Regions from separate parts of the Homo sapiens genome. Here region 2 is linked to region 1. Evidence: fine-mapped expression QTL. A gene starts in region 1. The other region holds a variant in brackets. All regions are shown on one strand. Distances are from middle to middle. Region 1 holds the start of RETSAT (retinol saturase). Region 2 overlaps TCF7L1 (transcription factor 7 like 1).

Region 1 (8,325 bases):
AGGCCTGCATAAGGACCTTCTCTTATATTTCTTTTTTCATTTTTTTTTTTTTTTTTTTTGGAGACAGAGTCTCACTTGGTCACCCAGGCTGGAGTGCAATGGTGTGATCCCAGCTCACTGCAACCTCCGCCTCCTGGGTTCAAGCGATTCTCTTGCCTCAGCTTCCTGAGTAGCTGGGATTACAGGCATGCACCACCATGCCCAGATAATTTTGTATTTTTAGTAAAGACAGGGTTTCATCATGTTAGCCAGGCTGGTCTCCAACTCCCGACCTCAAGTGATCTGCCCACCTCAGCCTCCCAAAGTGTTGGGATTACAGGCGTGAGCCACTGCCTCCAGGCTCTTATATTTCTTTTATATGTTTCACAACCATTGGCACAGTACTAAGCACAAAATATATTTCTCAAATTTTTGTTGAAATTTTATCTCTAAAATATTTGGTGATTCATTGTGCTGAACAACTTCCTGCAGGCATCTGTGTACCTGAGATTCATTTCATCCTTCCTTTCCTTCTCCAATTCAGTCCCCTCCAGTGTCCAAAGACTTCCCTCTTTGGAACAGTTCGCATATTACTACAGTGAAGAAAATCTTTCTGGAGACCCAAAGCAAAGGCTTTGTCCCAGTCTGGCCACTGAATCCCACAGCCTCCATTTAAGACCATTTTTGGGTGGGCAAAGTAGTGTGAAAGGTAAGGCATGTAGGGTTAGCTGCCCGGCTCATACAAAGACATATCACATTGAACTGAGTCCTGAGGATGATCAGGCCAAAGCAAGCGTTTCACAGGGAAGAGGCTAGTAAGGTAATGATCCAAATCAATGAAATACAGATTTCTTGGGTGATTCCTCAATGAAATTCTCCCCACTACCCAAGCAAAAAGAAAACAAAAATCTCATAACTCACTTACAAAACAAGCTATTAGGAAAAGCAATTGACCCTGAGGTGAATAGAAGCTCCTTCTTACAGAACAAAGAGAACTATAATGAGGGTTTCTAAATTTTTCCAAATATTCTCTTAATATATTCTTACTATACTTAATGATATATCTCAAACCAACACCACCTTTCCCAAATAAGAGTGCATGCTTACCTGTCCATCTCTTAATTCTTCTTTACTATGGAAAGAGCAAGATTTTTCATTCATGACTCAAAATCATTTGTTCATGTGAGCTTTGTCCTTGGGCCCAGAAAGCATTTTAGTAAGGTCTGAGATCAGAAGCTATGTGGAGAGCCAGAGATCCAGTTGCTCTACCTTTGCCTTCCTTGGCAGTCACTCAGACTAAGAGTAAGAAAACAGTCCCTTTGTGCCATCCGAGGGTGTAGGAGGTTTCTGTGAGTGCTGAGAGAAGTCCTCTGAGGTCTTCGAAGCCTCAGCTCTGCACAAAAGAAAAAAAAGAAATTGAAAAAGAAAACTGGTTTCACCATTCAGTTATGCCTCTGTTGACAATTTTTTTTTTTTTTTGAGTTGGAGTCTTGCCCTGTTGCCCAGGCTGGAGTGCAGCCGTGCGATCTCGGCTCACTGCAACCTCCGCCTCCCGGGTTCAAGCGATTCTCCTGTCCCAGTCTCCCGAGTAGCTGGAATTACAGGCGTGCGCCACCACACCCTGCTAATTTTTGTATTTTTAGTAGAGATGGGGTTTCACTATGTTGGTTAGGCTGGTCTTGAACTCCTGACCTCGTGATCCGCCTGCCTCGGCCTTCCAAAGTGCTGGGATTACAGGCATGAGCCAACACGCTCGGCCTGTTGACAAAATTTAAGCAGCTGTGAATTTATTCTGAATGAACAACTTGCCTCAGCCAAATGCTTACCTCTTACTACCCAAGCCACAGGATGGCCAAAAGGGGACCACACAGGGGACTGTGAGCTGGATTCTGTGTCCAAAAGGCAGCAGCACCACTAGAAGGGATGGGGTCTGTTTCTGACAATGGAGTTACTGGGACCTGGGCCAGCTTATCAAAGGCGTGAGGCTAAAGGTGTCACCTTGGTGGGTGGTCTTAGCTGAAGTGCTCAGGCTTTGTTTAGGCCTCACACACAGGCTGGGTCAGGGGCTTATAATACTAGACCTGGTTCCAACAATGGTAGAAATTCAAAATGCAACACGATGTTCTAACCTTTCTCAGTTATCAGCAATACTGTGCATGTGGCAGCTGGCTAGCCAGTTTGGGCAATTCTAAGTCTTTCATCTGACATTGCTTCCCTCAGGAAAAGGGCTGGACAAGGCTCATACCTCATCACAGGGGAATTGGACATCCGGAATGTCTGTCACATCAAAAATTGCATCCTAAGTGGGCAGATGGCCCACACACAACTGACAATCATAGTTCACAACTTTGGGTGACTAAGGAAGGAGGGTAGCCTCTCTATGAGGTCAGCCCTCCAGGATGCCATAAAAACTGGCTGCTGGTGTCAGGATGCTTTGATTATTAACACTGAGAGGAAGAATACCTCCTGGCTCTTGGGCTTGACATGTGGCTCACTGTAATCCGGGGGACAGGGCAATGCCCCCTTAGTCCTGGCACCCCAGGAACTAAACTGCTCTCACTGTGGCCTCTGGGGCCTCAACATCTGCCTCCCCTTTCCTTTTCCTCCATCATGGCCTCCATGACAGCCTATGACAAAACACACATTGGCCAGCCTTGGCAAGGTGACAGGCGGGTATGGTAATAGCAATCTCAGGAGGGCTCTTCTGTTGCTGTGTAGAAAATGAACCAAGTAGCATAGAATCGTGACCAGCTTTCCACACCTGGCTGGAGCACTCCTGGGGCCTTCAGTAGGGACAGTTACTATCTGTAGCAGAGAAGAAAAGAGCAACAATTCCATTAAACAAGGAAGTACTCAAAGGCAAATTCCTGATAGTTGGACCTAAGGAAACGGCCTTCCTGTAAAAATGGATCCTTCTCCAATCAAGTATTCATTATGCACCCTCTTTAGGCAAGGAGGGGGTATGATTCTTCAACTGCTTGCTGGAGGTTAGATTCTCTGCATAGGAATTTAAATTAGATGGGCCCTTAGCTGATCCTTTCACCATGCTTGTCCATGGGCGGCTCCCCGTCCCCCAGGTTCCCCACGGATGGGGTGTCATTAGGGACCCGCCATAGAGGACTCCGTCCCAGGCGGGCCCCCAGGACAAAACTATGGGCCACTTTGAGGGGCACAGAGACAGACGCTCACCGGTTGTGATGCGCAGGTAACAGAGAGCTCAATTCATCATGACAACCAGTCAGACAGGGGCTGTGAGCAGCCTTTGGACAGAACTTTCGCATAGCCTGGAGGCGTAAGACGAGGAAAGCAATTTAACACCTCAAGGCAGCGAGTCCAGGGCAGAGCCAGGACCAGAACTCAGGACTCCTGTCTCCCAGTCGGGATTCTCTTTCAGTCTTACAACTCTCGGCCTTGTCTCGCCCCATAGTGATAATTTCCACCGGATCACATTCTCCCTCCCTCCTCAGGCCGGCTGCTAGCTCCGCACAGGCACCAACCACTCCCCTTGGCAAGTGTTAACGCGTTCTCACCGTTAAAAGAGCTTTCCAAACTTGGGGGTCCCGCCGCCTCGGCTAGGCCTCATCTGCTCATGCGCACAGCCGCTTCCGTGCCGGCTCCCCTGGCCCCGAGAACTACATTTCCCAGTAGGCAATGGAAACCCAAAAGAAGTACGGAGAGCCGGGAGGGTCAATCATCACCTGAGAGTTGGCTCTTCGCTGGCTGGCTGGTTAATCAGTGCTCAAAGCTGCCTCCGCCTCCTGACTGGAGAGCGAACTAGCCCGGGCGGAGCCACAGTCCTAGAGGCTGAGCGCAGTCGGAGCTGTCCCATTTACCCGACCCGACGCCGGCGTGATGTGGCTTCCGCTGGTGCTGCTCCTGGCTGTGCTGCTGCTGGCCGTCCTCTGCAAAGTTTACTTGGGACTATTCTCTGGCAGCTCCCCGAATCCTTTCTCCGAAGATGTCAAACGGCCCCCAGCGCCCCTGGTAACTGACAAGGAGGCCAGGAAGAAGGTTCTCAAACAAGGTAGCAGGAGGGACCCTGGGGTCCGGGGCTGCACTCGAGGCTTTCTCACAGATTTGGGTTCTCATTTTGCCAAGGCAGCCGCTACCAGACGTGGGCCTTAGTTTCCCCATATGTAAAGTACTAGGAGGGCTTCCTTGCACGTGGAGGAGCCCCGCTTTAGTGTGCAACACTGTCGATAGCCTTTGCCCTAGTAGGCCCCGGGAATAGTAGTCCCAAGGGTGTGGTCATTGTCCTTGGTTTGCAAGGTGTTGGCACCCGCCCTGCCACTTGTAATCCCCGTGGCTCGTGGAACTGATAATCCCCGTGACTCATTCCTCCACTTGGTTCCAGGACCTTAACTTTTTCACCTACCCTCCCATGCGAGCTCAGGGGTGTGGGGGAGCAGCACAGAAATGCGTAGGAAATTGCGTTTTGCCCGTCCGGTGATTTAACAGGCTTTGCATGGTCCCAAATCGTAAGGATTGAACCCTAGTTCTGAAACATTGGCAGAGGTTCAACAAGGCGCCTCAGGCTCAGAGCCTGCTCTCCACTCTCATCTTTAAAACATATTTTGTGGTTGCTTCTAGAGTTTAAAGAGTTCTGCTGCTTTAAAAAATAATGGATCACCTGTTTGATCTACGGAGTCCCTCTCACTTGTAAATTTTAGAATTCTCCGTGTCATATCTTGCTACACAATCGGAGACAGTACTGTTCTAAGTGGAAGGACTAATCATCTGGACTTCTGAGAACTGAGTTTTAGCTTGGACTCTGTCACTAATTTGCTGCATAACCATTAGCACCTACCTGGGCTGGTCTAAAAATGAGATGACTAGCTTAACTGCTTTTCAAACCGGATTGTGATCTATTAGTGGGCTATGAAATCAATTTAGTGAGTTGCAACTGGCATTATTTATTTATTTATTGAAACAGAGTCTCGCTCTATTGTCCATGCTAGAGTGCAGTGGCGCGATCTCCGCTCACCGCAACTTCCGCCTCCTGGGTTCAAGTGATTATCCTGCCTCAGCCTCCCGAGTAGTGGGCATGCCCAGCTAATTTTTGTATTTTTAGTAGAGACAGGGTTTCACCATGTTGTCAAGGCTCTCGAACTCCTGGCCTCAAGCGATCCGCCCACCTCGGCCTCCCAAAGTGTTGGGATTACAGGCGTGAGCCATCACGCCTGGCCACAACTAGTATTTTAGAATGCAGTAGAATAGAAAATATCAGAGTGCATTATACATAGTTCCACTAAGTATTGCATTGTGACACTTGTTTCATGTATTTATCTTATATACTTACATGTGAAATTTTTTTTTACTATTGATCTCTCTAAAAACATTAAAAAAATAAGCAGTTTGCCAAGTTCTCTTGTATCTTGAAACATCCCAGATCTCAGTTCTTTGCCAGTGATTGTTAAAGAACAGATCTTGTGTCGGAAGTACCCATATAGCACCACTTGCTATCCAGTTTTGTCTTCTGAGAAGGTGCTGCCTCCCTCAGCACTGCCCCCAGACCTTCCCTATGGGAGGGGCTGGTGCTGTGATTTCTCAGAGCTGCAGCCTCTGAGCAGTTCTGTCCTGCCCAAGCCTTTTCATCAGGACCTGGAAGAGCCACCATAAGACCCAGCTATTCCACTATTGCTTGCAGACCCTGCATCTTCCAAAGAAACCCGGCTTGTGGGCTGGTGTGTTGGCTCATGCCTGTAATCCCAGCAATTTGGGAGGCCGAGGTGGGTGGATCACTTGAGGCCAGGAGTTCAAGATCAGCCTGGGCAACATAGCAAGACTTTGGCTCTATAAAACATAAAATAGGCGGGGCGCGGTGGCTCATGCATGTAATCCCAGCACTTTGGGAGGCCGAGGCAGGCGGATCACGAGGTCAGGAGATCGAGACCATCCTGGCTAACATGGTGAAACCCCATCTCTACTAAAAAATATTAAAAAAAAAAATTAGCCGGGCGTGGTGGTGGGCACCTGTAGTCCCAGCTACTCGGGAGGCTGAAGCAGGAGAATGATGTGAACCCAGGAGGCGGAGCTTGCAGTAAGCGGAGATTGCGCCACTGCACTCCAGCCTGGGTGACAGAGTGAGACTCCGTCTTAAAAAATAATTAAACACATAAAAATAAAAATAAAAATAAAATGGCCCGGCATGGTGGCATGCACCTGTAGTCCCAGCTACTCGGGAACCAGAGGCAGGAGGATTGCTTGAGGCCAGGAGTTCAAGGCTGCAGTGAGCTGTGATCACATCACTGCACTTCATCCTGGGCCATAGTGAGACCTTGTCTCAAAAAACAAATAAGCAAAACCCCAAATCTGCCTGGCTGGTTCTGAGTATTCCCAGGTAAAATGTTTGAAACATGTTAGTCAAGAGTTCTGTGCCAAACCACTCTAGAGGTTTCTTGCACTGTACAAGCTAGAGAAGTCTTCTTTGGTTTCCCTATCTTTGCTATTTCCCTGCCCCTGCCTGAGAAACCCACCCTTTGGCCCTTCTGCTGTAGCTTTTTCAGCCAACCAAGTGCCGGAGAAGCTGGATGTGGTGGTAATTGGCAGTGGCTTTGGGGGCCTGGCTGCAGCTGCAATTCTAGCTAAAGCTGGCAAGCGAGTCCTGGTGCTGGAACAACATACCAAGGCAGGGGGCTGCTGTCATACCTTTGGAAAGAATGGCCTTGAATTTGACACAGGTAAGGCTTGTGTGGAAAAGGGTTGGGAGCATGGCTGTATGTTGAAGAGGCTTGGAGCAGCCCTTGTGGGGTGATACTGAGCATTTCTGTTGTTTTGGAAGTGCCATCTTCTCTCTGGGTACTTTTTTTCTTTGTTTGTTTCAGACAGAGTCTCACTTCATCACCCAGGCTGGAGCGCAGTGGTGTGATCCCAGCTTACTGTAACCTCTGCCTCCTGAGTTCGTGATTCTCATGCCTCAGTCTCCCGAGTGGCTGGGATTACACTCAGTAATCCCACCAAGTGGGCCACCACACCCCGCTAATTTTTTTGTATTTTAGTAGAGATGGGGTTTCTCCATGTTGTCCAGGCTGGTCTCGAACTCCTGACCTCAAGTGATCCACCTCCCTCTGCCTCCCAAAGTGTTGGGATTATGGGTGTGAGCCACCGTGCCCAGCCTCTGGGCAGTTTTCTTATGTGACAGCATAGCTACTGGGAGTTGAATCGGGCAGCGATCTGGCGGTTTCTGCTGTGACACCTCCCTACAGACAGAGTGAGCAGCTCACTCTGGGCGTGAACTTGGCCAGGCCAGATAAACTCTTCCACCTCACTTCCTCAGCCACCTTTCCAGGGCTCAATCCCCATATCCCTTTACTACCTTGTTTTTCCATCTCCCAACAGGAATCCATTACATTGGGCGTATGGAAGAGGGCAGCATTGGCCGTTTTATCTTGGACCAGATCACTGAAGGGCAGCTGGACTGGGCTCCCCTGTCCTCTCCTTTTGACATCATGGTACTGGAAGGGCCCAATGGCCGAAAGGAGTACCCCATGTACAGTGGAGAGAAAGCCTACATTCAGGGCCTCAAGGAGAAGTTTCCACAGGAGGAAGCTATCATTGACAAGTATATAAAGCTGGTTAAGGTAACATGGACATGCTGAGGACCCAGAGTTTGTTCTCGATAAGGCTGGGTTTCTTTATTATTAGTGGAGGCACTGGGGGTGGAGAGTGCAGTGCGGGAGGCAGGAAGGGAGGAAGAGTCACATCTGTTCTTAGCTCAGCCTCCACCCAAGTCCATCCAGTTCTCTGTCTCTCTCTCTCTGGAGCCTTGGCTCCACGGCTGCTGCTGTCACCCTGGCCTCTGGGGATGCCCTGCTCTCCTCCCTGACTAGGCTGGCTTCCATGACATCAGATCACTACTCCTTTTTACTGCATCCGAGACCAGATTGGGATTTTTGAAAAGGAATTTGAGCAGGAAAATTAAAAGCAAAAAAAGGACTCATCCGAGTGTAGGATGGGAAAAATTCACAGAGTATAGATTTTTTAAAAATATTCAAATTCAGCAAAGTTCAGTCAGGGGTAAGTGTTGCTGGATTCTTGGGCTGGTCCAGGCTATGGGGATAGCAGTTCTGTCAAAGCGGTTCTAGAGGTGAGGCCTGCTGTCCTCATTCACTCCCCCAGGTGGTATCCAGTGGAGCCCCTCATGCCATCCTGTTGAAATTCCTCCCATTGCCCGTGGTTCAGCTCCTCGACAGGTGTGGGCTGCTGACTCGTTTCTCTCCATTCCTTCAAGCATCCACCCAGAGCCTGGCTGAGGTCCTGCAGCAGCTGGGGGCCTCCTCTGAGCTCCAGGCAGTACTCAGCTACATCTTCCCCACTTACGGTGGGTACTGGGCCTGGGCTCTGGGC
Region 2 (8,325 bases), 43 kb after region 1:
ACAGCCTTGGTGTGACAAACTTCCAGGTGCAAATTGGAAATTGCCTACTTCCTCCCATTCCATAACTTCTGCTCGTTCTCTGAGTCAAGCAGGGAGGCACGGGCCACACACACACGTGCACCTTACGCCTGGTCCATGTCCGTGTCATAGTAAACATAGTAGTTGGTGGACGGCAGATGCAGGTCCTCCTTGGTGCCTCGCAGGCAGATGAAAACAGAGGTCATGCCTAAGCCGGGCTGAACTGTCCCCAGCTGCTGCTTCACACCTGCAAAGGGGAGTGGTTGGTGCCTTTGTGGACCATGGCCGGAGACAGCCACTCCCTGCTCCCAGGAGAGCCTCAGGGTGACCGCTCGCTGTGTCCTGAGCCTTATCTTCAGTTGCCAGCTTTGTGCCCAGGCCACTTTTACAGCTGTTTCAACTTGATGTTGGCAGGGGCCTGCTCTTCTGTGTCCTCCTGCCTGGGAAGGACACTGCCCCAGGTTCCTATTCTTCCACCTCCCCTGCCTCTGCTCCAAGCCCCTTCAGAGGCAGGTAAAGCCCAGCCCTGGTCCTCAGCCCCCATGAGCTGGCTCAGCACCTGCAGGAAGGTCAAGCTTACTGCCTCCCATCTTCCCCTTCGTGTCTTGAAGTGTGGAGCACATGACTGGGTTCCCCCCATGAAGACCACACATGAACAGCAGCTCATTACCAGCCTGATTTCAGGATGAACTTTTATGCAGTCACGGAGTGAGTGAACATGCATGATTCTTAGTGTGACATCAGAACACAAGGCCTCCAGAGGGATGCCAATGCATGTGAGCAAAGGCAGGCAGCCTGACTGGTACTTGGCATCTCAGGACTCAGCTGGAGGGAGGAGGGAAGAACTACACTATGGCAGAGGCCACAGCCACTGTGGGGCACCTGATGTTCCCCAGACCTAAACAGCTGGGCTTCCCCACTCCTCAGCAGATGACCTGAGACCGGTGTTCCGGAAACTGCCCCCACAGATTCTTCTGCTGTCTTCCCATTCCCGTGCCAGAGGGATGCCGGGTCCCTGGCTCCTCTGCTTTTTCCATTTTTTAAAAAATTTATTTATTTTTAGATGGAGTCTTGCTCCGTCGCCCAGGCTGGCATGCAGTTGCGCGATCTCTGTTCACTGCAACCGCCTCCCGTGCTCAAGCGATTCTCCTGCCTCAGCCTCCCAAGTAGCTGGGATTACAGGCATGTACCACCACACCCACTAATGTTTGTATTTTCGGTAGAGATGGGGTTTCACCACGTTGGCCAGGCTATTTTCAAACTCCTGACCTCAAGTGATCTGCCTGCCTCGTCCTCCCAAAGTGCTGGGATTGAAGGCGTGAGTCACCGTGCCCGGCCTGCTTCGTTCATGTAACTAAATATTTGTGAGGCCCTCAGGTTGTGTTCAGGAGGAAGAGACACAGGAACACAGATGGAGGGCAAGAGGGACAGATGGCTCTAGCTGGGCTGCCTGGGTGAGATGCTGGGGCCTGGCCAGGACAGTGTCAGTTCCCAGAGGTCCTGGGACAGGGGAGAAGGGAGGTCAGGGTCACAGAGAGAGAGGCAGGAAGTAGCAAAGGCAGAGTCTGCCTGTGCACCAAGCCCGACCCCCCTGCTCTGCCCCTGGGCCGTCTCTACCTCACCCCCTCAGCTCCCCCGGTCTGAGAGAGGGGAGGCCGAGCAGGCTGCAGACCCAGCCACATGGGGCAGGGGAAGGAGAGGCTGGCATTGGTGGAGCCACCCACTGCACTGCCAGTCATACAAAGAAGTCTATCACACAGAATTATGTGCAGTATTTTTTTTTTTTGAGACAGAGTTTTGATCTTGTCTCTCAGGCTGGGTTGCAATGGCACAATCTCGGCTCACTGCAACCTCCACCTCCTGGCTTCAAGCGATTCTCTGGCCTCAGCCTCCCGAGTAGCTGGGACTACAGGCGGCCGCCACCATGCCCGGGTAAGTTTTGTATTTTTAGTAGAGAGGTTTCACCATGTTGGCCAGGCTGGTCTCGAACTCCTGACCTCAGGTGATCTGCCCGTCTCGGCCTCCCAATGTGTTGGGATTACAGGCGTGAACCACCGCGCCTGGCCTATAGTACTTTTTAATGAACGAAATGACTATGTTACTGGTTTATGTATTTGCTATATTTTTATTGTTTTAAACAAAAAAGTTTAAGAAGTAAAAAAAAAAATGTTTTTGTTTTTGTTTTCTTTGAGAGGGAGTCTCGCATTGCTGCCCAGGCTGGAGTACAGTGGCATGATCTCAGCTCACTGCAACCTCCGCCTCCCGGGTTCAAGAGATTCTCCTGCCTCAACCTCCCTAGTAGCTGGGATTACAGGCGCCCGCCACCGTGTCCGGCTAATTTTTATATTTTTAGTAGAGTTGGGGTTTTGAGGTCATGGTCTCAAACTCTTGATCTCAAGTGATCTGCCCACCTTGGCCTCCCAAAATGCTGAGATTAGCAGGCATAAGCTACTGCACCCAGCCCCAAAAAAGACTTTAATTAGAAAAAAGCTCATAGAATAAGGATATAAAGAAAATATCTTTGTGCAGCTGTACAGTGTATTTGCGTTTTAAGCTAAGTGTTATTACAAGAGTCAAAAAGTGTTTAAGTTGATAAAGTAAAAAAGTTAAACTAAGGTTAATTTATTCTTGAAGAAAGAAGAATATTTCTTTATAAACCTAGTGTTGCCTAAGTGTACAGCGTCATGGTTACTCACCACTCACTGACGCACCCAGAGCAGCTGCCAGTCCTGCAAGCTCCATGCCTGGGAAATGCCCTATACAGCTATGCCATCTTTTATCTTGTTTTTTGTTTTTTTTTTCCCCAAGACAGAATTTTGATCTTGTTGCCCAGGCTGGAGTGCAACGGTGCGATCTCGGCTCACCGCAACCTCTGCCTCCTGGGTTCAAGCAATTCTCCTGCCTCAGCCACCTGAGTAGCTGGGATTACAGGCGCCCACCACCACGCCCAGTTACTTTTTGTATTTTTAGTAGAGACGGGGTTTCATCATGTTGGCCAGGCTGGTCGCTAACTCCTGACCTCAGGTGATCCACCCTGCTCGGCCTCCCAAAGTGCTGGGATTACAGGCTTGAGCCACTGCACCCGGCCCATCTTTTATCTTTTACACCAGATTTTACTGCACCTTTTCTATGTTTTGTTTCTGTTTTTTTTGAGAAAGAGTCTCACTCTGTCGCCCAGGGTGGAGTGCAGTGGTGCGCTTTCGGCTTACTGCAAACTCTGCCTCCCGGGTTCAAGTGATTCTTGTGCCTCAGCCTCCTAAGTAGCTGGGATTACAGGCATGTGCCACACACCTGGCTAATTTTTGTATTTTTAGTAGAGATGGGGTTTCAACATGTTGGCCAGGTTGGTCTCGAACTCCTGACCTCAAGTGATCCACCTGCCTGACCTCAAGTGATCCACCTGCCTCGGCCTCCCAAAGTGCTGGGATTACAGGCGTGAGCCACCACGCCCAGCCACCTTTTCTATGTTTAGATACATAAACACTCACCACTGTGTCACAGTCACCTACAGTATTCAGTACAGTAGCATATGCTGTACAGGCTTGTAGCCTAGGAGCAATAGGCTATACCATATAGCCTAGGTGTGTACACCATCTAGGTTTTTCTAACTACACTCTATGATGTTCACACAATAAAATTGCCCAACGACGCATTTGTGAGAACGTTGTCTCAGTTGCTAAGCGATGCATGACTGTATATGAAATGTCTAGAATAGACAAGTTTGGAGACAGAAAGTAGATTAGTGGTTGCCTAGGGCTGGGGGAGATGGGCAAAATGTGGAGTGATTTTCAAAGGATATGGGGCTTCCTTTGGGACTGACAAAAACTTTCTAAAATTGACTGGTGATAGGTGCACAACTCTGAACATACAGCCAATGAATTGTCTACTTTTTTTTCTTTTCTGAGATGAAGTTTTGCTCTGTTGCCCAGGCTGGAGTGCAATGGCGCTGTCTCGGCTCACTGCAACCTCCACCTCCCGGGTTTAAGCGATTCTCCTGTCTCAGCCTCCCAAGTAGCTGGGATTACAGGTGCGCACCATCATGCCTGGCTAATTTTTGTATTTTTAGTAGAGACGGGGTTTCGCCATGTTGGCCAGGCTGGTCTCGAACTCCTGACCTCAGGTGATCCACCCGCCTCGGCCTCCCAAAGTGCTAGGATTACAGGTGTGAGCCATCGCACCCAGCCTGAATTGTATACCTTTTTTGTTTGAGGCAGAGTCTTACTCTGTTGAGAAGGCTGGAATGCAGTGGCACAATCATAACTCACTGCAGTCTTGAGCTCCTGAGCTCAAGCAATCCTCCTGCCTCAGCCTCCTGAGAAGCTGGGACTACAGGCTTGTGTGCCACCATCCCCAGCTAGTTGCTTTTTTTTTTTTTTTTAAAGAGATCAGGTCTTGCTATGTTGCCCAGGCTAGTCCTGAACTCCTGGCCTCAAGTCATCTTCCTGCCTCAGCCTCTCAAAGCATTGGGATTATAGGCAAGAG[C/T]GGCTCTGCCCAGCTGAACTGTATACTTTAAATGGGTGAAGTGTAACTTTAAATGGCTGAAGTATATCTCCATAAAGCTGTTACAAAAAATTAATTGTGGTGCTAGATACTATGGAAAGTATCCAAAAGATGCTTCCTCACATCTTGGCAATTACGAGTCAAATGGGTGATAGAAGCATAAGCTGAATGTCATTCCAGGCGGCAAATTCATTTAAATCAGCTGTGAAAATGATTACCCCCTTTGCAGCTCAGTCATGGACACTGACTGGCCCATGCACATTTGAGACAGGAAGCTGGGTTCAGGTTTTCTAAGGGTGTCAGGCATGCCTAACATTCCCCTGTGGCAAGTGGCAATCTTCCTTTGCATATCTGCGAAAGTCTAACACAGGGTTTGGGAGTGAAACAAACAGGTGGTTTGATTCAACAAAAGCACTAAAGAAACACTCAGAAAAGGTCTTGCAACTGCAATTTTATTTTCTTTTGTGAAAATAAACAACTGGGAGTTTAAATTGCTCCAAAAACCATAAAAACAAAAAGAAATACACACAGAAGAAGCATGTGAGGTGATGGGGAAGGGAACAGGGTCTCTAGAACTTTGGCAGATTGTGCTGGCACGGACCCAGGTGACAGGAGCCAGACCATGGGGCCGGTCCCGCCTGCCACTCTGGGATTGTGAAGGGATGATCGCCACTGGCAAGGACGGGGAGGAACACAGACTTCTTCGCTGAGGAAGTGGCAGGCACCTTGAGTCCCTTTAAATGCGGGGGTTGGGAGGAAACCATTTCAGAGGACCGCTTTCTCCACTGAAAGCTGGGGCTGGCGAGTTCGGGCCCACTGAGGGAGGGGACGCTGGTGGCAGCAAATCAGGCCAAGATGTCTTCTCACATGGTGATGGCCTCACACTGGGCAGAGGACAGAGGACGAAGAAGAACCCACGGTATTGAGCAGACGATGAAAACTTGGGCTGGGTAACAGGAAATGTCACAATGGCAGAGCTGCAGATGGAGTCGGGGAAGCTGGGGCAGGCGGCAGGGGCGAGAAGAGACAGGAGACAGAAAGTGCAAGAGAGGTAAGAGAGAGAAGTGCCCTCTGCCCAGGTCCATCCACCACAGCACCTACAGGACGAATAGCACGCTACTTTTCAGTTCTCTTTCTTATAAAGATTTTTTTTTGTTGTTTTGTTTTGTTTTTTAAAAAAGCCTTAAGATCAGCTACTGGTTACATCTACAAACTGTAAAGTGCTGTTGTTACCAGCCACTTTACAGAACAGTCCAGAGTGGTCAAATATTGACCAATAAAGTCTCCTTTTTCTTTTTCTTCTGAATCATTACTACTCAATGAGTCATGTGACAGCCTGCAGGGGTCGGGGGGAGCTTAGTGGGCAGACTTGGTGACCAGGGAAAGAGGCTGGGCCTGTAGCACCGGGAGGGCCTGGTGGGCATGGAGCGTGGCGGGGAAGGACGGGGGAGAGGCCAGCAGAGCTGTGGGCATGGACCCAAGGGGGAGGGGCCGGGACAGGAGGGGAGGCTGGCTGCCCATCTGCCCAGAGGAGGAGGCTGCAGCCTTAGCCGACAGGAAGGCGGCAGAGTGGAGAGCCAGCTGGGCCCGGGTTTCTGGTTTGGTGGTGAGGGAGAGGGGCTGGGCTTGCTCCGAATGGGTGGCAGCAGGGGCAGCTGGTGAGGCCAAAGCTGCAGAGGGAGTGGCCGGGGAGTCCAGCATGCTCCCGTGGGAGGAGGCAGGGCTGTCACAGGGCTTCTCGGGGGGCAGGTACTGAACACATGGCTTCTTGCTCTTGGAGGCCAGGGCACCTAGGGGGAAAATACAAGAAAGAGTGAGCAGCTATAGCTCTGTGAGAGGAGGAGGCTGAGGAACAGCCCTGGCGATACATGTGCTTTGGAGACACAGGGATGATTTTGGCGAGGACCTGACATTACTTCCAAGGCTTTCAAGACTAGGAAACTGCATTCACAAATACCCAGAGCACAGAGAAGAGGCAACGCCCAAACTGATGAAGATCCACCCAGCATCAGATCGGAGAGAAGACGGCTCAGTGTCTCACAGGACCACCCTCCTTTCCTAAAGCTGGTAACTTTTGGGATGAATCTCCAGTTTGCTTTGAAATCTTTGGTTTATGGTATTAATACAGTCAGAGAGAGTGCATGCCTGCTGAACAGCGTGCCAGACAGCGGGTTCTGTAGCAGGTACGGGTTCCACTCATGTGCGCTCCTATGTATAATGGAAGGAAGGAAGGAAGGGAGGAGGGGAGGCAAGGAAATAGGGAGGGAGGGAAGGAGAAAGGGAGGGCGGAAGGAGAAAGCGAGGGAAGAAGAAAGGGAGGGGGGGAAGGGAGGGAAGGAGGGGGAGAGGGAGGGAAAGAGAGGGAGGGAAAGAGAAAGGGAGGGAGAAAAGGAGGGAGGGAAGGGGAAAGGGAGGGAAGGAGAATGGGAGGGAAGGTGAAAGGGAGGGAGGAAGAAAGGGAGGGAGGGAGGAATGAAGAAGAGAGATTGAAAGCACTTTACATCGTGCAAGCAGCGATACACTTGTCCTGGAGTGAGCATGAGATGGGGGGCGTGACCTAAATATTAATAATAATCGTCACAGTGTGAGCATCTTTCTGTGCTAGGCATGATTCTGGTAATATAGAGATTTTATACATGGTTTTGACACAAAGTGCCTCCTAAACCCAAGCAAACTAATTTTTTCTGGTGTTCAACCAAAGAAACATCCAAGGAAACCCGGGCTCCCCTGGATCCACTGACAGGTGGGATGTCAGGGGCTCATGTGCTGCCTTCCTAAGGGTATTTCAAAGACAATTTCAACCTCATTCCATTAACCCTCAGGTAGGATGATTCACTTTTCAATGGAATTAGATTGTCTAGGCTTTGAAGTGACAAAGTCCTGGGATCAAATCCTACCACCACCACTGAAGCAGAGTGCCTGGGAAAATGCCTTCACATCTCAGAGCCTCTTAAGTGGCCACCTCGAGAAAGGGGTAATAATACCCGCCCGCGAATACCGAGGCAGAAGCCCTGACCCATCAGGGAGCTAGAGACAGCATGGGCAGGTGTGGCTGTGACAAAAGGAAAAGCAGGAGAAGAGGCCAGTGCCCCGAGACGCACCCTCTGCCTCCTGGACTTGCTGCTGTGACTGTGTCTGGGACAGCTGCTTTTCTCTCTTCCTCTTCTTTTTCTTACCCTGGAAAATACAGCCAAAGGAAGAGGTAAGCTGGGAGAGAAGAATGCTGGCTTCTCAGGGGCTCCCAGATCAGAGAGAAGACAGGACGTTGCCCTTTACTGCTCTCGATCCCTCAGGGAGAGTGTGGAGAGATAATTCAGATCACAGCCGTGGGAGCCCGTGAGGAGGCAGAGGGAGCCCTTCCTCCCCTACAAACGCGTTTCCCCTCCAGGTCGGGTGTCCAGGCCTTCTTGGAAGGCCTCCTCCCTCCACTGCCCTTCAGACTCTGTTTTTCTGTTTCTCTCCCTAGAACAGTGCTTCTAGATCTTTTCTGAGGGGTCCCAGGTCCCTTTGAAAGTTTGATGCAACTGTGGGTCCTCTTACCAGAAAAAAAGCAAAGAAGAACACGCATGCGAAAATTGGCTTGGTTTCCGGGAGCTTAGAGACACGCCCCCTGAGGCTCACACACTGGTCTTTGAGCCCTGGGTTAGGAGTGGCTGGAGACAACTCTTCCTACCACAGCTAACCCCGTGCCCTGTGTTATGAAATCGAGGGCAGAGTCCAGTTCAAAGGGAAATGCATCAACTGAAGTCCGTCCTCAGGACTTGTTGACCTCCTGAGAATTAAAACACCTTCCTTATTTCTAGAGAA

The links. PIP is the estimated chance that this variant, and not a neighbour inherited with it, causes the effect.
Region 2: its variant is fine-mapped to the expression of RETSAT in cerebral cortex (GTEx, PIP above 0.99).

Annotation. Positions count from the first base shown.
Region 1 is chr2:85,350,014-85,358,338 of GRCh38, reverse strand. It overlaps RETSAT (retinol saturase), which reads left to right and starts at 3,811. Exons shown (of 11, transcript NM_017750.4): 1 at 3,811-4,003; 2 at 6,477-6,659; 3 at 7,318-7,559; 4 at 8,098-8,299. The coding sequence starts at 3,832. ELMOD3 (ELMO domain containing 3) reads right to left here and starts at 3,570. Exons shown (of 14, transcript NM_001135022.2): 1 at 3,510-3,570; 2 at 3,169-3,263; 3 at 2,741-2,784; 4 at 1,087-1,372. The coding sequence starts at 1,140. RefSeq lists enhancers at 3,114-3,173, 2,808-3,307, 3,344-3,743, 3,308-3,809.
Region 2 is chr2:85,307,012-85,315,336 of GRCh38, reverse strand. TCF7L1 (transcription factor 7 like 1) reads right to left here. Exons shown (of 12, transcript NM_031283.3): 11 at 7,620-7,695; 12 at 4,950-6,308. The coding sequence ends at 5,875. Among named protein-coding and RNA genes, the nearest start is that of TGOLN2, 17 kb to the left of the region's middle. RefSeq lists enhancers at 1,452-1,952, 4,818-5,701. The variant C/T (reference allele first, on the strand shown) is at 4,501.